Linked DNA regions of Homo sapiens: all the other regions are linked to region 1. The links come from fine-mapping of genetic effects on gene expression. A gene starts in region 1. Each other region holds a variant in brackets. All regions are shown on one strand. Distances are between the middles of the regions. Region 1 holds the start of IL6R-AS1 (IL6R antisense RNA 1). Region 2 overlaps TDRD10 (tudor domain containing 10). Region 3 has its middle 21 kb from the start of AQP10.

Region 1 (8,146 bases):
CAGACCTGGAGGTTGGGGGCAGGGTGGGAATTTAAAAAGACCACTTTGAGTCAGGGTATCTGGGATCTTGACCAGCTCTGTCACCACTGCCTGTGCCATCTTTACCAAGCAACTTCTCTTCTTGAGGCCTAGCTCCTTATCTAAAAAGTGAGGGAGGAGAAGCAATGATGACCAAGTCCCTTTTGGTTTCAAAATAACCTTACATATTTATTCTGTGGGTCTCCTGTAGACTTCTGCTTTAGGCAAACTTTAAGATGCTTCATCGCTTCAGGTGAAAGGTGAGAGAGGACTTGCTTGCTGGGAGTCAGCCTAGGGCTTCCCCCTTTACAGGAGACGGAGGGTCCCTGCAGGAACACCGGTGAAGGAGAGGGTGTCCCACACACCAGGTTCTGCTCTCTGCTCTCCCCTCACAGACTACAGAACACCAAGTGCCTGCTGCCATGGTCTGCAGTGTCTTTGGTCCTGGGTGGGCCGACCGAGCCCTTGCTCAGTGAGAGTCCTGGGCCAGGAGCCAGACCTCACCCTGGAGCTGCCAGTTACTAGTAGTGCAGTTTTGAACAAGCCACTTTACCTCTGTTAGCCTCAGTCTACTCATCTGAAAATTGGGGGCAATGTCTCCCAGCATTCAGGGTTGAGAATTTCAGAGGAGATTGTGTATGTAAAGCAATTTGTAAGCAGCACAGTTATCTGAGAAGTGTTCTGGCTCAGACAACTAAAGTCTTCATTGTTCCTTCTGTTGTCTGGGTGAGGGCAGGTCAGGCTGAATTGTGCAGGTATGCTTTCTTCTCTTTCTTTTTTCTTTTTCTTTTCTTTTTTTTGAGAGGGAGTTTCGTTCTTCTTGCCCAGGCTGGAGTGCAGTGGTGCCATCTCGGTTCACTGCAACCTCCGCCTCCTGGGTTCAAGTGATTCTCCTGCCTCAGCCTCCTGAGTAGCTGGGACTACCGGTACGCACCACCATGCCCGGCTAATTTTTGTATTTTTAGTAGAGATGTGGTTTTACCATGTTGGTCAGGCTGGTCTCGAACTCCTGACCTCATGATCTGCCCACCTTGGCCTCCCAAAGTGCTGGAATTACAGGTGTGAGGCACCACGTCCGGCCTGGCCAGGATTAAATTTTTTCATGTGAACCACAACACTAAAACTTTGTATATTGCTGCGCTTATCTTACAAATCAGGAAATAGGGGTTCAGAGAAGTTAAATAGCTTGCTTAAGTCACACAGCCAGCAAGTGGTAAAGCTGGGATCTGCATGACTACAGAGCACACAGGCTCCCCACCAGTAGATTAGAGAGGGGGAGGTCTGCTTTGGTGCAGAGACAGGTGGGATCTGTGATGCCCGTTCTTGGTTTCAACATTCTTTTAAACTCTCCTATCTGAGCCTAGGACTTTCTGCAGCCTTCCTGTTTTAGGCTGGCAGCTCACAGTCCCTCTCTGGTTATTTTCAGGTCTGTGTGTGCCACAGAGAGGAAGGGGGCAACCACAGTGGGAACCGCTTTCCAGCCCTGCTGCAACCCCTTTTGAAATAGCAGGCGAGAGGGCTGGTGGCCTCCACTGTGCTCTTCTGTTCCTGTCTGTGGGCATGGCTAAAGCAAACAAGCTCACCCACACCAGCTCCCATCGTGCGGTGGATCAGTGCATGTGCTTGGTTCTGTCTGGCACTGCTGATGGGTGGTTCCTACAGAAAGATCCAGATGCACGGGGTCTGAGGACTGTTTCAGAAGCTCTGTCCGTCCATGCCTGGCCCTGTCCACTTGGGAGTTCCATTAGGCCATGCCTGTTCCAGCTGTCCCAGGATCTTTGATCTGGGTTAGGATTGGCCTGAAACCAAAGGTAGAAAAACACATTCTAATGAGCAGTTGCTGGTCTAGAAGCTTCTCAGCCTAAACTTTATTTCAGCATTTTTCTTTCCCTCCAGATTCAGCTATGAGGCCATCCTATCAGCTTTAGGCTCTGTGGGGGTCCTTGAGAGAGTTCCCCTCCAAGGGACGGACAGATGGTCCCCTTCAAGGTCCTTGTGGTTGCTCAAAAGCCAGGTGCTTGTTTCTTTCTTTTTTTCTCTCCTTCCTTTCCTTCCTTCCCCTCTATCCCTCCTTCCCTCCCTCCCTCCCTCCTCCCTTCCTTTTCTTTCTTTCTTTTCTTTTTTTTTTTTTCTTTCCAGACAGGGTCTCACTGTCATCCAGGCTGGAGTAGCAGCCCCCAATCACGGCTCACTGTACCCTGGATCTCCCGGACTCAAGCAATTTTCCCACCTCAGCTTCCCTAGTAGCTGGGACTATAGGTGTGTACCACCACACCCAGCTAATTTTTAAATTTTTTTATAGAAATGGGGGTCTCACTTTGTTACACAGGCTGGTCTAGAATTCCTGGACTGAAGCAATCCACCCACCCGGCTCTCCCAAAGTGTTGGGGTTACAGGCGTGAGCCACTGCCCCTGGTGTTAGTGTCTGTCTGTCAAGTCAGGAGGGCAGCCATGAACGTTCTGATGTCTACTGAGCACGTGTGGCCCAGACCGTGTGTCAGGTGTTTAGGTGCCATCCACAGAACCTTCCTAATAACCCTGGGCAGCATAGGCTTTCTTATCTCTGACAGATGAGGAAATGGAGACTCAGATTCTGAACCGAAGTCACAGACACAGTAGATGGTAGGTCTAAATGGGGACCCAGGTCTATCTGACTGCAAAGTCCAAACCGTTTCCTTGCCTCTGCTGCAGCCTGCGAGGAGCAGCTGGGCAGAAAGACTGTGCCTTTACGGTGGTGAGTCTTCCGATGCCCAAGCCTCACCCCAGACCGATGAAATCAGAATCTCTGGAGACCCGACCCAGACATTGGTGGGTTTTAGGGCTCCTGGCTGATTCCAGTGGGCAACCGGGCTACCAAGCACTGTTTTACCCTAAGGGTAAGAGGAACATCGCCTCCTCGAGGGCTCTCCAGGTGTGCCTTTCACAGCGTAATCCCGTTCACGAAACCAAAAATCAAAACTAGGCCACTGCCCACTGGTGGCTGATACGCCCTTTTCTCATCAACAGAACCGGGAGGAAGGGCTCTGGTGGGGCTGGCGGTCCCCTGTTCTCCCCGCTCAGGTGCGGCGCTGTGGCAGGAAGCCACCCCCTCGGTCGGCCGGTGCGCGGGGCTGTTGCGCCATCCGCTCCGGCTTTCGTAACCGCACCCTGGGACGGCCCAGAGACGCTCCAGCGCGAGTTCCTCAAATGTTTTCCTGCGTTGCCAGGACCGTCCGCCGCTCTGAGTCATGTGCGAGTGGGAAGTCGCACTGACACTGAGCCGGGCCAGAGGGAGAGGAGCCGAGCGCGGCGCGGGGCCGAGGGACTCGCAGTGTGTGTAGAGAGCCGGGCTCCTGCGGATGGGGGCTGCCCCCGGGGCCTGAGCCCGCCTGCCCGCCCACCGCCCCGCCCCGCCCCTGCCACCCCTGCCGCCCGGTTCCCATTAGCCTGTCCGCCTCTGCGGGACCATGGAGTGGTAGCCGAGGAGGAAGCATGCTGGCCGTCGGCTGCGCGCTGCTGGCTGCCCTGCTGGCCGCGCCGGGAGCGGCGCTGGCCCCAAGGCGCTGCCCTGCGCAGGGTAAGGGCTTCGGGCGCACCTGGAGGGCTGGGGCAGCTAGCGGCTGGGGGAAACCGCCTTGGTCACCGCAGTCTGTGGGAGGCTGGAGGGAGGAAAGGAGGTGCGACGGATCCCCTTTTCTGTGGCTGCCTTGAGGCCCCGCGGGTACCTAGCTGTGTGGTCGCGGGTAGTGGCTCTTGCGCCCCCTGCTGCGCTTGCTCCCTTGGTCCGGAGCGCTCCCCGGAATGCCCGGTGAAGCTGTGCGGGAACCCTGCGGTCTGTGTACAGGACTGTGTCCTTGCAAACCTGACTCTCGAGCTTCCTTCCCAGTGCCCCCAGGAGCCTTTACACAACCGCGTCCCAGGTTACTCTAAGGGGAGACTGCCCGAGAGGGCGCGCCCCAGCGGGGTGATGTACCCGCCTGGGGAGTCCTTTGTACCAGCGCCCCTCTTCTCCCTCTGCATTGGGGGTCCACCTCGCCTGGTCCTCCCCCCACCCCCGCGGGTGCATGTGTGGATGACAGTGCCCTGACTATGAAGGGACTGACATCACGGGCGCTGAGTCACGGATCTTCCCGCTGCACGGAGTCACTTTGGCAGCCACCAACTCTGGGAAGCCAAGTGCCCCAGTCCTGGGAATTGAGTCGGGAGGCTGGCAAGGGAGTGAGACCTCCTGGGGCTGGCACGTGCTGGACTCCCCTCTAGAAAAGAGAAGGACCCGTGAGGGAGAGGGCAGAGGCACTTACTGCTCCCGTTGACTGTAATCTGCCCCTGGCAAACCAGGCTTTTCTTGGGCTCTGGCCGCATGCCCAGCTGCGTGTCTAGTCTCTCTTCTGGAAGAGTTGGGCAACTGGCTCTCCAGAGGTTTATTTTAGGGTCCCAGTGCTTCTTTGAGGACACAGCAGAAAACTAAGGGGCAGCTGACAGGCTTCTGGAACAGCTGACAGGCTGGGGAGGCTGAAGGCTAAGACTTTCAACCACTAGATCACACTGAATTCCAGTCCTAGGTGAACACTGATCTCTCCCTTTGAGGAGGTGACTTTCTGCAACTAGAGGCTGAGCTGGAGTGTCTGAGGCTCTCTTTGCTTTTTGGATGGTTGTGGTCCTTATGATTGGAAGAAAAAAAGAAGGGATTCCATTTTCAATACACATTTATAACTCCTGCCAGTAACAGACACTGTTGATTGGGGCACCCATTCAATGTTTTCTAATCCTCCACTGTATCTACATATAACTTTGTTTGAAAGAGGAGACTGAGGTTCAGGGAGGTTGGGATGGCGGGATGGCAGGTTGTCAGGCCCCGGTGATGGAGGCCAACCCCTCCCGTGGCTCTGTGCTCCAGTGTGGTAGATGTCTAAGACTCTCAAATATAGAACTAGATCAGCAGGCAGAGCTGGGGGCATTGGGGCAAGCTGAGAGTCACTCTTGTCTGGCTGAGTGCTGGGACAGAAAAGGCTGAGGGAGGGAAGTGGAGGCCCAGGCTTGCCCATGGTGGTGTTAGAGGGATGCAAGACAGGTTCCAGGGCTCGGATGGCCTCAGGAGCAAGCAGGGCTCCCTTGGCTGCCTCTGCTGCTGTCACGCCAGCCCAAGGCTCCTGCCCCAGGGAGGTTACTGTTACTGCTGTAGTTGCCACCACCTGTTGCTCCTGAGTGGATGCTAGGCCCTTCCAGGGCAGCCAGTTACAGTCAGTTTTCCATTTCCCTGGTGCTCAGGAAGGATTAGGAGAGGTGGTCTCATGGCCTGAACAGCCCATGAAAGGCAGAACTGAGAGACTGGGGAGGAAGTGAAAGTCCTCCCAGCTCAGAAGGAAAATGCAGAGAAGTAGAAATACCCAGCCCCTCTCCCACACCCACACAGACTCAGCCCACAAACTGGAGAGTAAAAATAAAGAAATCGTACAGGAAGCATGGAGCAAATGACTGTGAGATGTTTCGCTTTAGAGAAGTGAGGAGCAGAGGGGGAGCAGAGGCTGGAGTTGGCTGAGAGGGGAAATCCGCAGGTACAGCCTGCGGGGCTCTTAGAGCCCAGAGGTTTGTTTTCCTCGGGATCAGCTGCCGCCCACACACCCTGGAGCTGCCAGGACTTCTCAGGTGTACTCGTTGTCTAAGGGCCTGGACTAGCTGGGACTTAGGCTTCTGCCGGTTCCAACACTCTGGTGCTGGAAGGCTGGACTTGGGTGACTCAAGTTCCCTCTTCCTACTGCAATGCAAGAAAATACACAAAAGAAGTATGTATACCTTTAAGTATCTCAAAGAGCTATCTCAGCTTCTGAATTTCCTTCTAGGGCACCTCTTCCTGCCCCCATTACCCACACACGTGCCTAGCCTCACCCTAAATCAGTATTTCTCAAAAGCTTAGTTCTGAGCCTAGCATCAGATCTGGTGTGTGTGCTGGGTGGGAGGGCTTTGGTAAACATGATGATTTTTGAACCCTAACCCAGATTTATTAAATAAGAACACCTAGGAGTGAGGCCTGGGGCATGTCCTTTTAAACAAACTGCCCCTTGTGATTCTTAGGCACTGTCAGGTTTGAGGACGGCTGCCTAAATGGTGTCATTGAGGAACTGAATGAAGGCCCTCCCGCTTCGGGCTCTCTGTTGCCAGAAATCTCTCCTTGCTTTGGCTTGCTGCTTGTTTATTCATTGCAGCAAACATTTCTTGAGTCGGTGTAGAGCCTGTGAGGCCTGTGTAGGATCAGCTATGCAGACTCCACCCTAAAAGGAGCCTGAAAATGGTCATGGGTAAATCCTGAGAAGGGCTGAGAAACCCCAGACTCTGACCGGGCCACTGGGTACCAACTACCCGTGAACAGATTGTCTGGCTTGGGGTAGGGGGTGGTTAGAGAGAGGAAGTTCCTCTGACTGAGGACCAAGATCCCAAGGCAGCAGGCACACTGATCCTGACCCTGACCCTCATCTCCAGCCCTCAGCAGCCAGGGTAAACAAATACTCCCCTCACTGGGTATTTGTAGATTACACAAAGTAACCTAGGTGCTGACTGCTGAAAATATACACTCCCTTCCCCCGTCTCCTGAATCCTGGTCCCACCAGGCCTGGAAGCCACAGACCCAGCAAGCAAAAGAGTTTCCAGTCAATGAATCTAGTCTGGATTGAAGCTGTGCTCTGTAATACGGTAGCCACTAGCCACGTGTACCTATTTAAATTTAAATTATGCCAGCGCAGTGACTCACGCCTGTAATCCCAGTACTTTGGGAGGCTGAGGCAGGAGGATCTCTTGAGCTCAGGAGTTGGAGACCAGCCTGGGCAACAGGGTGAGATGCCGTCTCTACAAAAAGATTTAAAAAATTAGCTGGGCACAGTGACATGAGCCTGTAGTCCCTGCTACTGAGAAGGCTGAGGTGGGAGAATCACTTGAGTCCAGTCTGCATGGAGCCATGTTTGCACTACCGAATTCCAGTCTGGGCGACAGGAGACCCTGTCTCCAAAAAATTAATTTAAATGAAATCAAATAAAAACTTAGTTTCTTAGTTGCACTAGTCACATTTTAAGTGCTCAACACTCACATTGCTAGTGGCTACTGTACTGAACAGTGCAGATACAGATCTCTTCCATCATCGTGGAAAGCCCTACTGGACGGTGCTGGGCTAGAGTGTTAACCAGTTTCTTCCAGAGGTTTTCTGTTCTCTTTTCCTTTATCCCCCTCTGCCTTCTGCTCTCCTCCACCTGAACACAGCTCATTTTGCATAGGTGATGGCTAAGGTCTTCAAGCCAGGCACATCTCTGCCCTGCACTGCCAAGTAAAAATGATAACACCTTGGGCAAGTGATTTAACTTCTTTGACAGCCAGTGTTCTAGAAAATAGAAATAATTGTATTACCTCGAAGGGTGGTTATGAAGATGAGATGAGCTAAGTAAGGTATTAAATAGAGTGTTTACAGAAGTCCCTAACACACAGCAAGTGCTTAAATAAGTGTAGGTGATCATTCATTCACTCCAAAAATATATTTTTGGAGTGAACACCTCCTACTCTGTTCCAGGCACTATTCTAAGAGCTGGAGATACACCATGAATAAAAGAGACAAAAACCCCAGGCTTAGTTGAGTTTCATTCTAGTGTGGGAGACTATTAACAGGATGTAAATTAAGTATGTGGTATGCTAGCGACTAGTGCTAAGGAGAAAAACTAAAGCCGAGAGGGAGACAGACCCCATGTGTGTTTGTGGCAGGGTGGGGTGGCATGGTGCCTTGGATGGGAGGCCAGGGAATGCCTTGCTGAGAACATAATATTTGAGTGAAGACCTGAAGAAAATATACAAATCTCTAGAGATTCCCTATATGTCCATCTTGGGCAGGAAAATTCTTGCCTCCTCTTTAACAATGTGTACTACCTGAGGGTGTGTTATGTTCTGGAGCAGAGGGCTCTGTGGGGACACATGGATGCTCCCTGCCCTGGAGAAGTATCTCTGGGGTAACAAGTCCTCAGCCCTTTAGCTCCTTGAAGTCTAGCAGAGGGAAGTGCTAAATGCCAGGTCATAACTGCAAGTCTGCAGGTGGGATCCTTGAGGGCTGGAGTGGCAAGGGGAAGGTGACAAAGAAAAGGCCTTTTTTTTTTTTTTAAATACAGGATCTTACTCC
Region 2 (8,174 bases), 130 kb after region 1:
CTCTTAGGGTAGGTCTGCTAGTAACAAATTCTTTTCCTTCATCTGAGAATGTCTTAATTTCCCCTTCATTCCTAAAGAATATTTTTTTCTTTTCTTTTTTTTTCTGAGACAGAGTCTTCGCTCTTGTTGCCCAGGCTGGTTGGAGTGCAATGACACGATCTTGGCTCACTGCAACCTCCGCCTCCCGGGTTCAAGTGATTCTCCTGCCTCAGCCTCCCGAGGAGCTGGAATTACAGGCACCTACCACCATGCCCGGCTAATTTTTGTATTTTTCGTAGAGAGAGGGTTTCACCGTGTTGGCCAGGCTGGTCTTGAACTCCTGACCTCAGGTGATCTGCCCGCCTCGGTCTCCCAGAGTGCTGGGATTAGAGGCATGAAGTGTCTGGCCTAAAAACATTTTCATTAGATAAACAGTTTTTTTTTTCAACACTGGAAACATAATTGTACCACTTTCTTCTGGCTTCCATGGTTTCCTTCTTTTTTTTTTTTTTTTTAAGTTTTTTTCATTAAATTTTTTTTTTCTTTTGAAACAGAGGTGGGGTTTCACCATGTTGCTCAGGCTGGTCTTGAACCCCTGGACTTAAGTGATTCACCTGCCTCAGCCTCCCACAGTGCTGAGATTACCGAGCTGAGCCTCCATGGTTTCTGATGAAAAATCTGTTGTCATTCAAATGGTTTTTCTCTGCATTCAAGATTTTTGCTTGGTTTTTAGTTTTCAGAGTTTAATTGTGATATGTCTTGGCATTTCTTTGTATTTTTACTGTTGTGGGTTCACTTGCCTGTTTGAATCTAGGTTTTCTCGGTCTACTGTCTTTCTGTTGCTCAGACTGCATAATTTTTATTGCTGTGCCTTCCAGTCACCGGTTCTTTCTTCTGGGCCTCCAGTCTGTTGTAGAGTTTACCCACTGAGCTTTTTATTTTGGTTATGGTATTTTTCAGTTTAAATTTTTTTTTTTTTTTTGAGACGAGTCTCACTCTGTCACCCAGGCTGGAGTGCATTGGCACGGTCTTGGCTCAAGCGGTTCTCCTGCCTCTGCCTCCCAAGTAGCTGGGATTACAGGGACCTGCCACCACGCCCAACTAATTTTTTTGTATTTTTAGTAGAGATGGGGTTTCACCATGTTGGCCAGGCTGGTTTTGAACTCCTGACCTCAAGTGATCCGCCTGCCTCAGCCTCCCAAAGTGCTAGGATTACAGGTGTGAGCCACCACGCCTGGCCTAAAATTTCCATTTTTAAATACTGTTTTTGGCTGAGACTTGGTTCATTTGTTTTAAGGGTGCTTGTCATTGCTCCTTGAAGCATTTTGTCGTGGCTGCTTTAAAATGTTTGTCAGGTAGTGCCAGCACCAGTGTCGTCTTGGCATTGGCAGGTATTGTCTTTTTGTGTCTGGAATTGGTGGGTTCTTGGTCTCACTGACTTCAAGAATGAAGCCGCGGACCCTTGCGGTAAGTATTACAGTTCTTAAAGGCAGCATGTCCAGAGTTTGTTCCTTCTGATGTTCGGATGTGTTCAGAGTTTCTTACTTCTGGTGGGTTCGTGGTCTCGCTGGCTCACGAGTGAAGCTGCAGACCTTCGCAGTGAGTGTTACAGCTTTTAAGGCGGCACATCTGGAGTTGTTCATTCCTCCCAGTGGGTTCGCGGTCTCGCTGGCTTCAGGAGTGAAGCTTCAGACCTTCGGGGTGAGTGTTACAGCTCATAAAGGCAGTGTGGACCCGAAGAGTGAGCAGCACCAAGATTTATTGCAAAGAGCGAAAGAACAAAGCTTCCACAGTGCGTAAGGGGACCCGAGTGGGTTGCCACTGCTGGCTCGGGCAGCCTGCTTTTATTCCCTTATCTGGCCCCACCCACATCCTGCTGATTGGTCCATTTTACAGAGAGCTGATTGGTCTGTTTTGACAGGGTGCTGATTGGTGCGTTTACAATCCCTGAGCTAGACACACAAGTTCTCCACCTCACCACTAGATTAGCTAGATACAGAGTGTCGATTGGTGTATTCACAAACCCTGAGCTAGACACAGAGCGCTGATTGGTGTATTTACAATCCCTTAGCTAGTCATAAAGGTTCTCCAAGTACCCACTAGACTCAGGAACCCAGCTGGCTTCACCCAGTGGATCTCGCACCGGGGCCACAGGTGGAGCTGCCTGCCAGGCGGGTGCTGTGCGCCCACACTCCTCAGCCCTTGGGTGGTTGATAGGACCAGGTGCTGTGGAGCAGGGGGCGTTGCTCATCGGGGAGGCTCAGGCAGCGCAGGAGCCCATGGCGGGGTGGTGGGGAGACTCAGGCATGGCGGGCTGCAGGTCCCAAGCCCTGCCCTGCGGGGAGGCAGCTAAGGCCTGGTGAGAAATCAAGCGCAGCACCAGTGGGCCAGCACTGCTGCGGGACCTGGTGCACCCTCCGCAGCTGCTGGCCTGGGTGCTAAGCCCCTCACTGCCCGGGGCCGCTCTGAGTGCGGCCCGCAAAGCCCACGCCCACCCAGAACTCTAGCTGTCCTGCAAGCACCGCGCGCAGCCCTGGTTCCCACCTGTGCTTCTCCCTCCACACCTGCCTGCAAGCCGAGGGAGCCAGCTCTGGCCTCGGCCAGCCCAGAGAAGGGCTCCCACGGTGCAGCGGCGGGCTGAAGGGCTCCTCAAGCGCGGCCAGAATGGGCGCCGAGGCTGAGGAGGCACCGAGAGCGAGCGAGGGCTGCGAGGGCTGCCAGCACGCTGTCGCCTCTCATTTTTTTCATTCCATGTGAAATTTTCCTGGTTCTTGGTATGATGAGTGAGTTTCACTGGAAACTTGGACATTTTCTTGTTACGTTGCTAGACTAGATTTTGTATACACCTTGTGTTTTAACTGGCTTCCTCTGATGCTGCTCCCACAGGGGAACACGGTACTGCCTCGCTGCTGCCAGGTGAGGATGGAAGTCAGGCTCCCTACTCAGCCTCTAAGGCGGCAGCGAGCCCCTTGTTACTGCCAGTTCTAGTTTGTGGTCTCCACTGACATCTTGGCGTGGATGGCTTCATTACCGCTGAGGAAAGTCTTGACTCTCCACTACACTTCTGACACCCCCCCCAGTAGGGAGAGAGAGGGGGGCTTTCTCTCTGTGAGGTGGGTATGGAAGTCCAGGATTCCCAAGTGGTTTCTATTGACACCCAGGCAGGGTGGTGGTAGGGAGAGACCGGTTTCTTTATTGGGTAGGGGATGAAATTCCTGGCTGCCTGCTTGGCCCTTTGTGACACCATCAGGGTGGGGGTATTGGGCGACTCATCCCAGCCCCATGAGGGCAGAAGTCTGGGCCCTGCATGCTGTCTTTGTTGGCATGCGTGGAGGTGGGATCTCCTTGTTGGTGGCATTTAGCTGGAGTAAAGGAGTTATTATCTACAAGCTTTCTGTCTTCCTAGCCTGTCTCTTCTGGTGCTTTGGCTAGAAAGAGCAGGCTTTTGTTGGGTTTTTTTTTTTTTTTTTTCTGGACCTACTGGTGTTTCTGGGTTGCTGGCCTCTTCAATTCTAAGTTTGGAATATATAAAGCAAAAGGAAAACCCAGAGAAGTCATCACCACGTTGTACCCTGGGTTCCAAGGTCTCTGGTCAGCCTGTTCCCTTCTCTCCATCTTTCAGAGTCTTCTTATGTTTGTTTTACATGTAATGTCCTGGGCTCTTAGTTGTGTTTAACAAAACTAAGATGAAGTATGTATATTTCATCTTCTCAGAGTGGAGGTTCTAAGAATGGTTTTTATTTATTTATATTTTTAGAGCAGGGTCTTGCTCTGTTGCCCAGACTGGAGTGCAGTGGTGTGATCTGAACTTACTGCAGCCTCGAACTCCTGGGCTCAAGCAGTCCTGCCTCAGCCTCGTGAGTAGCTGGGACTACAGGCGTGTACCACCATGCCCAGCTGATTTGGCCTCAAGCAATCCTCCTGCTTTAGCCTCCCAAAGTGCTGGGATTGCAGGGCAGCCACTGTGCCCAGCCATATATATATATATATATATTTTTTTTTAATTTTCTATTGTTTGTAGAGATGGGGTCCCACTATGTTGCCCAAGCTGGTCTTGAACTCCTGGCAAGCAATCCTCGTGTCTCCACTTCCCAAACTGCTGGGATTATAGGCGTGAGACCCCCCAGCCGTATTTTTAAATGGGAAAAAAAATGAAGAATATTTCATGACACATGAAAATTGTATGAAATTCAGTTTGTGTCCATGAAACATTCCTGGCATGCAGCCTCAGCCATTTGTTTACAGATTGCCTGTGGCTGCTTCCTCACTACAGCAGCAGAGTGGACTCATGACAGACAGTAAGGCCCCCAAAATCTAAAATATTTACTATCTGGCCCTTTGCAGAAAAAGTTTGCCAGTTCCTGGGTTAAGATCTAGGCTATTTTTTAAAAAACAAAAATAAACAGGATGAAAATGCCTGGAAATCAATGCAAGAAAGAAACAACCTAATAGAAAAATGGGCAAGAGCTAGGAATAGGCACCTTTTGTAGGTGAAGATGCATAAAAGCCAGGCTGCAACTTTCCCGTTGCTTACCACGAGGTGGCAGTTTCTGACAACACCTGGTGGTTTTCCATAGCCTGCTCCGATCAAGTCAGCCACCTTTGATGCTCCTGGTTTCCATGGCTTTGCCCATCCTGGTAGAACTATCCGCTGAAGGAGTGGGGAGTGGGGAAGCCCCAGATGCTCACTGTTTTCGTACAAAGGTCAGTCGTTGTTGTTATTGTTTTCTTTTTAATAGATGTTTTCAATTTCTTGTATGCTTCAGTCAATTTCCAGAGTCCTGAAGTGATTGTTTTTGACAATTTGTCAAGA[T/C]TTGTTATTGCTTTTTGGGGAGAGGATTTGTTGATTGAAATATTTTGTAGTGAAATTGTTTTAAAGAAAAGAAAAGGTAAAATTAGAAGATAAGCTTACGTGGCACAACACGCATCCAGGCAGTGTTCAGGTCAGCGTGGGGGAGAGATTATCAAATGATATAAGATAATTTCCCATGGGTGAAGGATGTGAGTTTTCAGATACAAAGCAGCCAATGAGTGCCCAGGATAATGAATGGGAAAATAAAAACCTACATGAAGGCACTTTACAGAAGTATTTTAGAATACTAGGGATAAAGCTTTAGGAAGAGAATCCACATTGAAGGATATGGAATCAGGTGGTGTGATTGAATTCTTCAGGAAAATAATATCCAAGCCCAAACAAGTCAGTCAAGAATAAGGGTAGCACTTTGGGAGGCCGAGGTGGGCGGATCACTTGAAGTCAGGAGTTTGAGACCAGCCTGGCTAACATGGTGAAACTCCATCTCTATTAAAAATACAAAAATTAGCCAAGCGTGGTGGTGCACACCTGTAATTCCAGCTACTCGGGAGGCTGAGGCAGGAGAATCCCTGGAACCTGGGAGGCAGAGGTTGCAGTGAGCTGAGATCATGCCACTGCACTCCAGCCTGGGCATCAGAGTGAGACTCCATCTCAAGAAAAAAAAAAAAAGAGAGAGAGAATATAAGGGTAAGCCATCTGCAGTGGTGTGTACCTGTAATCCCAGTGCTTTGGAATTTGGGATTTGGGAAGCTGAGGTGGGAGGATTGCTTCAGGCCAGGAGTTTGAGAACATCCTGGGCAACCCTGTCGACAAAAAATGTGCCGGGTGTGGTGGCACACACATGTAGTCCCAGCTACTGGTGAGGCTGAGATGGGAGGATCACTTGACCTGAAGGAGTTTGAGGTTGCAGTGAGCTATGATTGTGCCAGCACTCCAGCCTGGGTAACAAAGTAAGACACTGTCACTTTTAAAAAAAGGTTGAAAAAGACTTGCTCAGAAAGATAGGGTCTCAAAAAATGTGTGCCCCATGTACCTGTTCTCAGAAAGCTATGAAGGAGTGTGTTCCAACAAAAATGAATCAGTAAGCCAAAACAAGACGGGATCTGGTATCCAACCCAGATCCAAGAGGAGAGAGATGAGAGGCTTCCCAGATTGGCCAAAGGCAGTCCTGGAACAGTTGCTGTGCAGCAGGCAGTCCAGGGCAGAGCAGGACGGGGTGAGACTCCAGCGGTGACGTTGGCAGGAAGAAAAATGTAAAATTGAGAGGAGCGGTATTATGAAGAGCCACTGGAGGTTATAGGAAAACTTAGCCAAAGATTCAAGGAAATCCAAGTAAATGGACTGGGGAAAAAGCAGCAGTTAATTCCTAAGAAAAGGTTGCAGGCCGGGCGCAGTGGCTCACGCCTGTAATCCCAGCACTTTGGGAGGCCGAGGTGGGTGGATCATGAGGTCAGGTGTTCGAGACCAGCCTGGCCAACATGGTGAAACCCCGTCTCTACTAAAAATACAAAAATTAGCTGGGCGTGGTGGCACATGCCTGTAATCCTAGCTACTCAGGAGGGTGAGGCAGGAGATTTGCTTGAACTTGGGAGGCAGAGGTTGCGGTGAGCTGAGATTGTGCCGTTGCACTCCAGCCTGGACAACAAGAGCGAAACTCCATCTTAACAAAGTTGCTTAAGAATAAAAATAACACATAACTTGATTCAATAGGATTTGCAGTCACATAATAATGAGAACACTGGAGGCTTTGAGCAGGGGGTGACATAGCCAGATAGAACCCATTCTTATATTTTAGAAAATCAACTTTGTTGAAGTATTCGATATACTTACTGAAGTATAATTTACTTAAAGTGAACCCATTTAAGTGTACAGCTTGACGAATTTTGACCAGTGCGTGCAGCATGTAACCACTGTCACAATCAAGATAGAGAACATTTCAGTCGCCCAAAAGATTCCCCCTTCAGGGCCCCCAGCAGCCCTCAGCTGTTGTCCATCCTTTCGATGAGATGGAGCTTTTCCAGCGTGTCCTGTAAATGGCATCAGGCTGTGCGTGCTTCTTTGTGTCTGGCTTCTTTCATTCAGTGGAATGTTATTGAGATGCATCCATGTGGTTGCACCATCAGCAGTTCTTTTTTTATTGCCAAGTGATATTCTGTTGTATCATGTGCCACCATTTATTCGTCCTTGCACCTAGATTTAACTTTTAAAGGGACCCTTTAGAACCCACTGGAGGAGGCCAGAATGGAGGCAGGAAGACCTGTTTCTGGCAGTCCGGGGAAGAGATGAAAATATCTTGTCACACCAGCCCTGGGGCGGCCCCCCAGACAAGCCAAGTACATCCCCACCTTAGGGCCTCTGGACCTACTATTGTCAGCCCAGAAGGCTCTTCTCCCAGGTGTCTATAGGGTTTGCTGTCTCCCTTCATTCCGGGCTCCACTCAGCAGTCACCACCTCAGGAGGACTTTCCATGAGACAGCACCCACCCCTGGCACCCTTCATCCCCTGTCTCTGACGTTTGTCTCTTCATCCCTCTTGCTGCCAGCCAAAGACATTATTCCTCTTTGTATACTTATTTAGTGTCTGCTGCCCCCACCAGAACGTGAGCTTTGTGGTGGCGTTTTATATTTGTGGGTGACTAAAGGGGGGCTCCCTGAGGAGCCCACGCAGAGGTCTTTGTCTTTCATCTTTGTCTTTTTGTGTCTAGCACATAGAAGTGCAAGTGATTAAAGAATGAGAAGGAAGCAGTTGAGGTTGAAGCTGCACATGCAAAATTTCCACCAGGATGGGCCCCTCAGGTGTTCCCAGGTGCAGTTCCCCAGGTTGGTGGAGGTGAGGGTGGGTGTAGACAGCGCTTAAAGAGAGATGGCCCAGGGTTGTGGCAGCGAGCAGACTTGGAGGCTGCAGGTTGGGACACTGCCTGTGTTCTGGGTGTCATGAGGCTGTACCCTGCTGAGTGTATGCAAGAACTTCTCCCTGGTGTGTGGAGGGGACTGGATGGATGGTCCCACCTCCAAGCCTTCTGGCCACCAACCTTTGTATTTTTGTTTCTCCTCTCCCACTGCACGGACTCCCCAGCATCACTCTGGAGCAGGCGCACCTCTTAGAACACTTGACCACCTGGTAGAAATGTCCCAGAACAAAGTAAAGGGATAATTAAGAGCTGTTGATTGATCTGGGCATGAGGGTGACCATGCTTGTAGCAACAATGGAACTTAATTAAAATTAACTGCTCTTGCAGCTATTGAGGTGCTGCCTTGATGTCTGTGGCTTCCGTGTGGCCACCTTTGTATTACAGACACGTCGGAAATTGGAGGTCTGTGTTTAGGTGATGTGCCTGCTGTGGCTGTTGGATGATAATTATGTAGATTTTCCTCTGGAACTT
Region 3 (8,176 bases), 110 kb before region 1:
CAGAGGCAGGCAGATCATGAGGTCAGGAGATCGAGACCATCCTGGCTAACATGGTGAAAACCTGTCTCTACTAAAAATACAAAAAATTAGCCAGGTGTGGTGGCAGGCACCTGTAGTCCCAGCTACTTAGGAGGCTGAGGCAGGAGAATGGCATGAACCTGGGAGGCAGAGCTTGCAGTGAGCTGAGATCTTGCCACTGCACTCCAGCCTGGGCAACAGAGCGAGACTCCGTCTCTAAATAAATAAATAAATAAATAACAAAATACAAAAAATTAGCTGGGCATGATGGTGCATACCTGTAGTCCCAGCTACTCGGGAGCCTGAGGTATGAGAATCACTTGAACCCGGGAGGCAGAGGTTGCAGTGAGCCAAATTGGCACCACTGCACTCTAGCCTCCAGCCTGGGTGACAGACTGAGACTCTGTCTCAAAAAAAAAAAAAAAAAAAAAAAGAAAAGAAAGATTTAAGGGATAAAGCTAAAGCAATGCTTAGAAGAAGATTTGTAGCTTAAATGCCTTTAGTAGAAAGAAAGAAAGGTCTACAATCAATAATCTAGGCTGGGCATGGTGGCTCACGCCTGTAATCCCAGCATTTTGGGAGGCCGAGGCAGGTGGATCACCTGAGGTCAGGGGTTTGAGACCAGCCAGGCCAACATGACGAAACCCGAAACCCCATCTCTACTAAAAATACAAAAACTAGCTGGGTGTGGTGGCACATGCCTGTAATCCCAGCTACTTGGGAGGCTGAGACAGAGAATCGCTTGAACCTGGGAGGCAGAGGTTGTAGCTGGCCGACATTGTACCACTGCACTCCAGCCTGAGTGACAGAGCAAGACTCTACCTCAAAAAAATAAAAAACAAAATAAAATAAAATCAATAATCCAATCTTTCACTTCAAGAAGCTGGAAAAATAAGAGTAAATCAAACATAAAGTAAATAGAAGAAAGAACATAATAAACGCCAGACTGAAAAATCAATGAAATAGAAAACAAAAACTTTAGAGGCAGGAGAATCGCTTGAACCTGGGAGGCAGAGATTGCAGTGAACTGAGATCTTGTCACTGAACTCCAGCCTGGAGACAGAGTGAGACTCCATCTCAAAAAACAAACAAAAAAAATAATAGCCAAAAACTTTTCAAATTTGATGAAAAACATTACACATCTAAGAATCTCAATAAACCTCAAATACCTAGACACATCACGGTCAACTTGTTTAAAGACAATTGGCTACCACATATACTAAAATTTGAACAATTCAGAGAAGATTAGCCAGTCTCCCGTATAAGAATGGCATGCAAATTTGTGAAGCACTCCATATTTTTACATGTAAATAAAAGAAAAAATAAAAGCAAATGTACTATATATATAGAGTAATACTACTAGTTATTTGGAAAGATCAACAAAACAGACATATCTTTAGCTAGATTGCCCAAGAAAAGAGGAAAGAACATACACATTACCAAAATCAAGAATGAAAGAAGGGACATCTTGTCCAAGTGTGGTGGCTCATGCCTGTAATCCCAGCAGTTTGGGAGGCCGAGGCGGGCAGATCAAATGAGGTCAGGGGTTTGAGACCAGCCTGGTCAACATAGTGAAACCCTGTCTGTATTAAAAACACAAAAAAATTAGCCAGACGTAGTGGCGAATGCTTGTAGTCCCAGCTACTCAGTAGGCTGAGGCAGGAGAATTGCCTGAATCCAGGAGGTGGAGGCTGCAGTGAGCCAACATCATGCCACTGCACTCCAGCCTGGGCGGCAGAGTGAGACTCCGTCAAAAAAAAAAAAAAAAAAAAAGAAAGAAAGAAAGAAGGAAGGAAGGAAGGAATTGTAGGGAATTTAAATGATATGGAGAAAACCCTAGAAAGAGACAAATTAACAAAGCTAACTAAAGAAAGAAAAAAAGAAAATCCAAATAGACCTATACCAAGGAAAAGGAAAAGAATTTGGATTTAAAATCGTCCCACAAGAAAATGCCCAGGTCCAGATGCTTTATTGCTAAATCATGTCAACACTTAAAGAACAGGCCAGGCACAGTGGCTCAAGCCTGTAATCCCAGCACTTTGGGAGGTGGAGGCGGGTGGATCACCTGAGGTCAGGTGTTCAAGACCAGCCTGGCCAACATGGTGAAAGCCTGTCTCTACTAAAAATACAAAAATTAGCCAGGCATGGTGGCGCACACTTGTAATCCCAGCTACTTGGGAGCCTGGGGCAGGAGAATCACTTGAACCCGGGAGGCAGAGGTTGCAGTGAGCCAAGATCGCACCACTGCACTCCAGCCTGGGCAACAGAGCAAGACTCTGTCTCAAAACAAACAAACAAACAAACAAAAAGCAAAATAAGAGGATAAAGAGAGGCCAGGTGTGGTGGCTTACGCCTGTAATCCCAGAACTTTGGGAGGCTGAGGTGGGCGGATCACTTGAGCTCAGAAGTTCAAGACTAGCTTGGACAACATAAGGAGACCCCCATCTCCACAAAAAAATTTTAAAATTAGGGCCAGGCAAGGTGGCTCATGCCTATAATCCCAGCACTTTGGGAGGCAGAAGCAAGCAGATCACCTGAGGTCAGGAGTTCAAGACCAGGCTGGCCAACATGGTGAAACGCTGTCTCTACTAAAAATACAAAAATTAGCCAGCCATGGTGGCAGGCACCTGTAATTCCAGCTACTCAGGAGGCTGAGGCAGGATAATCGCTTGAACCCGCGAGGCAGAGGTTGCAGTGAGCTGAGATCGCACCACTGCACTCCAACCTGGGTGACAGAGTGAGACTCCATCTCAAAAAAAAAAAGAAAAAAAAAATCTGCTAAAATTACTTTGTATTTATATACAAAAAAGAGTCACATTCTGAGATCATATAATTATAAACAAGTTTTTCACCTATATGCACTATGGTAGGACATTCTAAAGTCATGTAGGACATACATAGAACAAGTCTTTGTTGCGTGTCTTGCAGAATGTTTAGAATATCTGGACTCTGACTACTAAATGTAAGAATTACTGCCCCTTTCCCACCCATTGTGAAACAACATTGACAAAAATTCTGACTACAATTTTTTTTTTTGAGACAGGGTCTCTGTTGCCCAGGCTGGATTGTAGCAGCGTGATCTCGGCTCACTGCAGCCTCAACCTTCTGGGTTCAAGCAATTCTCCCATCTCAGCCTTCTGAGTAGCTGGGACCACAGGCATGCACCACCATGCCTGGCTAATTTTTGTATTTTTTGTAGAAAAGGGCTTTTGCCATGTTGCCCAGGCTGGTCTCAAACTCCTGGGCTCAAGCAATTTGCCCACCTCAGCTTCCCAAAGTGCTGGATTTACAGGCGTGTACTCACACACCTGGCCTTACAAATTTTCAAAATTCTCCCTATGAGATAGTAGTATTCCTGGTTTTAAAAACTGGTCTAGGCCAGGCACAGTGGCTCATGCCTGTAATCTCAGCACTTTGGGAGGCCAAGGCGGGTGGATCACCTGAGGTCAGGAGTTTGAGACCAGCCTGGCCAACATGGTGAAACCCCATCTCTACTAAAAATACAAAAAAAATTAGCTGGGAATGGTGGTGGGTGCCTGTAATCCCAGCTACTTGGGAGGCTGAGGCAGAAGAACTGCTTGAACCTGGGAAGCAGAGGTTGTAGTGAACTGAGATCACGCCATTGCACTCCAGTTTGGATGACACAGAGCAAAACTCTGTCTCAAAAAAAAAAAAAAAAAAAAGGTCTAATAGAAGTTCTTCTACCTGGAAACATGAGTATGTGGTATAAGAATAATAAGCACATATTACTTTAGAAACTATGAAAATAAAACCAATTTTTTCTTCTTTTTCAAAGTGACAGGGGAGAGATCTCGATGCAGGATATGGTGACTTTTTTTTTTTTTTGAGACAGGCTCTCACTTTGTTACTCAGGCTGGAGTGCAGTGGCCGAGATCTTGGCTCACTGCATCCTCGACCTCCTGGGCTCAAGTGATCCTCCCACCTCAGCTCCCCAGGTAGCTGGAACTACAGGCATGCTCCACCATGCCTGGCTAATTTTTTGTATTTTTTGTAGAGACGTGGTTTCATCATGTTGCCCAGGCTGGTCTCAAACTTCTGAGTTCAAGCAATCCACCCACCTTGGCTTCCCAAAATGCTAGGATTATAGGCGTGAGCCACGGCACCCAGCCGTATATGGTGACTTTTGATATTCTTTTCTTTCCTTTTGATTTTTTTTTCTTTTTTTTTGTAGTGATGGGGGTCTTAGTATGCTGTCCAGGGGGCTGGTCTTGAACTCCTGGCCTCAAGTGATCCTCCCACTTCAGCCTCCCAAAGTGTGGAGATTACAGGCTTGAGCCACCGCACTCAGCCCTAAATGTGTTTGTTGTTTTTTGTTAAAGAGCCGGGGCTGCTCTGCTTATGGAGTAGCCATTCTTTTATTCCTTTACCAGAAAAAGAAGAATAAAAGAGCCAGGCCTGAATGGGGGTATGTCTCACTATGTTGACCAGGCTGGTCTCGAATTCCTGGGCTCAAGTGATTCTCACGCCCGGGATGGAAGGCATGAACCACCGCGCCCAGCCACTTTACTTCTTCACAAGTGTATCTCTGAAGATCACTGCCACATAAACCTTCTACATGGAACTCTCCATATCAGGGCCTGTTTCCAGGGAGAACCAATCTAAGACATTTAGTTTTTCCAACCCACACACTTTGTACCATTAGCCACCCTCCTTGAGTCTTTCAGGTTAAAGAATATCAAAAGTCAGACTGGGTGTGG[C/T]AGCTCCTGCCTGTAATCCCAATACTTTGAGAGGCTGAGGTGGGATGATCACTTGAGATCAGGAGTTCAAGACCAGCTTGGGCAACATAGTGAGACCCCCATATCTACCAAATAAATAAATAAATAAATAAATAAATAAATAAATAAATAAAAACATTCAGAACAGGGATCTCTGAGGGAAGAAAATATTTTAAAAACCAATTTTGGTGGCGGGGGACAGTCATGCTCTGTCACCCAGGCTGGAGTGCAGTGGTGCGATCTCGGCTCAGTGCAACCTCTGCCTCCTGAGTTCAAGTGATTCTCCTGCCTCAGCCTCCTGAGTAGTTGGGATTACAGGTGTATGCGCCAACACACCTGGCTAATTTTGTATTTTTATTAGAGACAGAGTTTCACTATGTTGGTCAGGCTGGTCTCGAACTCCTGACCTCAAATGATCCACCCACTTCACCCTCCCAAAGTGCTGGGATTACAGGCATGAGACACCACACCCAGCAGAAAAAAAAATTTTTTTTTAAGTTAAGAAGGCAGAATTGAGCAGAGGGAGTAGCTGACACACAATGTGGTTGCAGCAGAACCTTAACTGATCCTTGGATTTTACAGACAGCCCTGGAATGAAGATAATTTTTCAGAGCTGTCCCAAATGAAGGCAAAGGGACCATGATTTTGTGTCACTGCATTAGCCAATCATTGGCTGCAGGAAAGAAAGGTCAAAACAATTTCCTGTGGCTGATGGTAATGTCCAGTGAGGGAGGCAGCGGTGGGCCATCAGTGGCTGATATTCCTAGCAGCTGGGGAGTAGGCTTATGATCCTAGAAAGGGAATCTGGGTGAAACACCGGTGTTTTCTACAGTTTACCACTTGCACTACTCAGATCCTTTTTTTTTTTTTTTTGAGACAGAGTCTCGCTCTGTCGCCCAGGCTGGAGTGCAGTGGGGCGATCTTGGCTCACTGCAACTTTGCTTCCTGGGTTCAAGCAATTCTCTACCTCAGCCTCCCAAGTAGCTGGGATTACAGGCGCCTGCCACCACACCCGGCTAAATTTTTTTGTATTTTTAGTAGAGATGGGGTTTCACCATCTTGGCCAGGCTGGTCTTGAACTCCTGACCTCGTGATCCACCCGCCTCAGCTTCCCAAAGTGCTGGGATTACAGGCGCGAGCCACCGCATGATTCATTCTTCTTTTTGTTGTTGTTGTTTTTTGCTTTTTGAGACAGCGTTTCACTCTGCCGTCCAGGCTGGAGTGCAGTGGCACAATCTCTGCTCACTGAAACTTTTGCCTTCCAGGTTCAAGCGATTCTCCTGCCTCAGCTTCCGGAGTAGCTGGGATTACAGGCGTGCACCACCACGCCCAGCTAAATTTTCTTTTTTTTTTTTTGAGACGGAGTTTCGCTCTTGTTGCCCAGGCTGGAGTGCAATGGTGCAATCTCAGCTCACCGCAACTTCTGCCTCCCGGGTTCAAGTGATTCTCCTGCCTCAGCCTCCTGAGTAGCTGGGATTACAGGCATAAGCCACAATGCCCAGCTAATTTTTTTTTTTTGTATTTTTAGTAGAGATGTTGTTTCACCATGTTGGCCAGGCTGGTCTTGAACTCCTGACCTCAGGTAATCCACCTGCCTCGGCCTCCCAAAGTGCTGGGATTACAGGCGTGAGCCATCGCGCCCGACCCAATTCATTCTTCTTATAGTTAGTTTGCCCTGTTGGGGAAAAGCATCTATAGCGTTCTGATTGGTTTCATTTCCTGGGGGAACTTTGAGAGAAGGATTAAGTGGAAAAGTTTATAGCCTTTTTACTGCTGCAATTAGTTTTGAGGTTCTAAGAACTTCTCATTATCCCCTCCTGTACCACTAATGCCAGATTCTCCTCACCTTTGGCTAGCACTTCTGCTGGTCTAGAGAGCTGGGTAGCAGAGTGACCCAGACCCTAAATCCTGAGAGTGCCTTTGGTTACCATGTGGCTGCTATACTTTTCTATTTACTGTTAGAATTCTTTTCTATTTACTGTTAGAATTGATCACAGTAGCACCAAGAGGCATCCCAGTGGATGACCTGAATGCCAAAGTATTCTTCCTGGCCAGGCATGGAGGCTCACGCCTGTAATCCCAGCACTTTAGGAGACTGAGACAGGAGGATTGCTTGAGCCCAAGAGGTTGAGCTTGCAGTGAGCTATGATCACGCCACTGCAGTCTAGCCTGGCTGACAGAGCAAGACTGTCTTTAATTTAAAAAACAAGGCTGGGCGCAGTGGCTCATGCCTGTAATCCTTGCACTTTGGGAGGCCGAGGTGGGTGGACCACTTGAGGTCAGGAGTTCGAGACCAGCCTGGCCAGCATGATGAAACCCCATCTCTACCAAAAATACAAAAAATTAGCTGTGCACGGTGGCGCGCACCTGTAATCCCACCTACTCAGGAGGCTGAGGCAGGAGAATCACTTGAACCCAGGAGGTGGAGATTGCAGTGTGCCAAGTTCGCGCCACTGCACTCCAGCCTGGGCAACAAGAGCAAAACTCCATCTAAAAAAAAAAAAGGCCAGGCACAGTGGCTCACACCTGTAATCCCAACATTTTGGGAGGCCGAGGCAGGTGGATCACTTGAGGTCAGGAGTTCGAGACCAGCCTGGCCAACATGGCAAAACACTGTCTCTATTAAAAATACAAAAATTAGCCAAGCTTGGTGGCATGCGCCTGTTATCTCACCTACTCAGAAGGGTGAGGCAGGAGAATCGCTTGAACCTAGGAGGCGGAGTGTGCAGTGAGCCGAGATCGCGCCATTGCACTCCAGCCTGGGTGACAGAGTGAGACTCCGTCTCAAAAAAAAAAAAAAAAGAACTTGGCACAGTGGCTCATGCCTGTAATCCCAGCATTTTGGGGGCAGGCAGATCACCTGAGGTCAAGAGTTCAAGACTAGCCTGGCCAACATAGTGAAACCCTGTCTCTACTAAAAATACAAAAATTAGCCAGGCGTGGTGGCGGGTGCCTGTAATCCCAGCTACTTGAGAGGCTGAGGCAGGAGAATTGTTTGAACCTGGGAAGTGGAGGTAGCAGGTCAGCTGAGATTGTGCCATTGCACTCCAGCCTGGGCAACAGAGACTCCATCTCAAAAAAAAGAAAGATCAGTAGATCCTTTTGTCACATGCCCACTGCCATATCCCCACTGCTGTAATGTTGATCTTTTAGAGTAATGTAATTCAGATTTCATTGTTTTCCATGTTTTTTTTTTTTTTTTTTTTTTGGTTATTGTTGTTGGAGTCTCACTGTGTGGCCCTGGATGGAGTGCATTGGCATGATCTTGGCTCACTGCAACCTCTGCCTCTCAAGTTCAAGCAAATCTCCTGCCTCAGTCTCCCAAGTAGCTGGGATTATAAGTGCGCACCACCATGCCCTGCTAATTTTTGTATTTTTAGTAGGGACGGGGTTTCACCACATTGGCCAGGCTGATCTCAAAC

The links. PIP is the estimated chance that this variant, and not a neighbour inherited with it, causes the effect.
Region 2: its variant is fine-mapped to the expression of IL6R-AS1 in whole blood (INTERVAL, PIP 0.92).
Region 3: its variant is fine-mapped to the expression of IL6R-AS1 in whole blood (TOPMed, PIP above 0.99).

What each region holds. Positions count from the first base shown.
Region 1 is chr1:154,402,141-154,410,286 of GRCh38, forward strand. It overlaps IL6R-AS1 (IL6R antisense RNA 1), which reads right to left and starts at 4,424. Exons shown (of 2, transcript NR_147855.1): 1 at 4,299-4,424; 2 at 181-1,817. IL6R (interleukin 6 receptor) reads left to right here and starts at 3,203. Exons shown (of 10, transcript NM_000565.4): 1 at 3,203-3,574. The coding sequence starts at 3,490. RefSeq lists silencers at 3,008-3,137, 3,338-3,487 and an enhancer at 3,727-4,333.
Region 2 is chr1:154,529,922-154,538,095 of GRCh38, forward strand. The region is part of intron 6 of TDRD10 (tudor domain containing 10); the gene reads left to right. Among named protein-coding and RNA genes, the nearest start is that of UBE2Q1-AS1, 20 kb to the right of the region's middle. The variant T/C (reference allele first, on the strand shown) is at 4,793.
Region 3 is chr1:154,296,429-154,304,604 of GRCh38, forward strand. It overlaps the pseudogene RNU6-121P. Among named protein-coding and RNA genes, the nearest start is that of AQP10, 21 kb to the right of the region's middle. The variant C/T (reference allele first, on the strand shown) is at 4,737.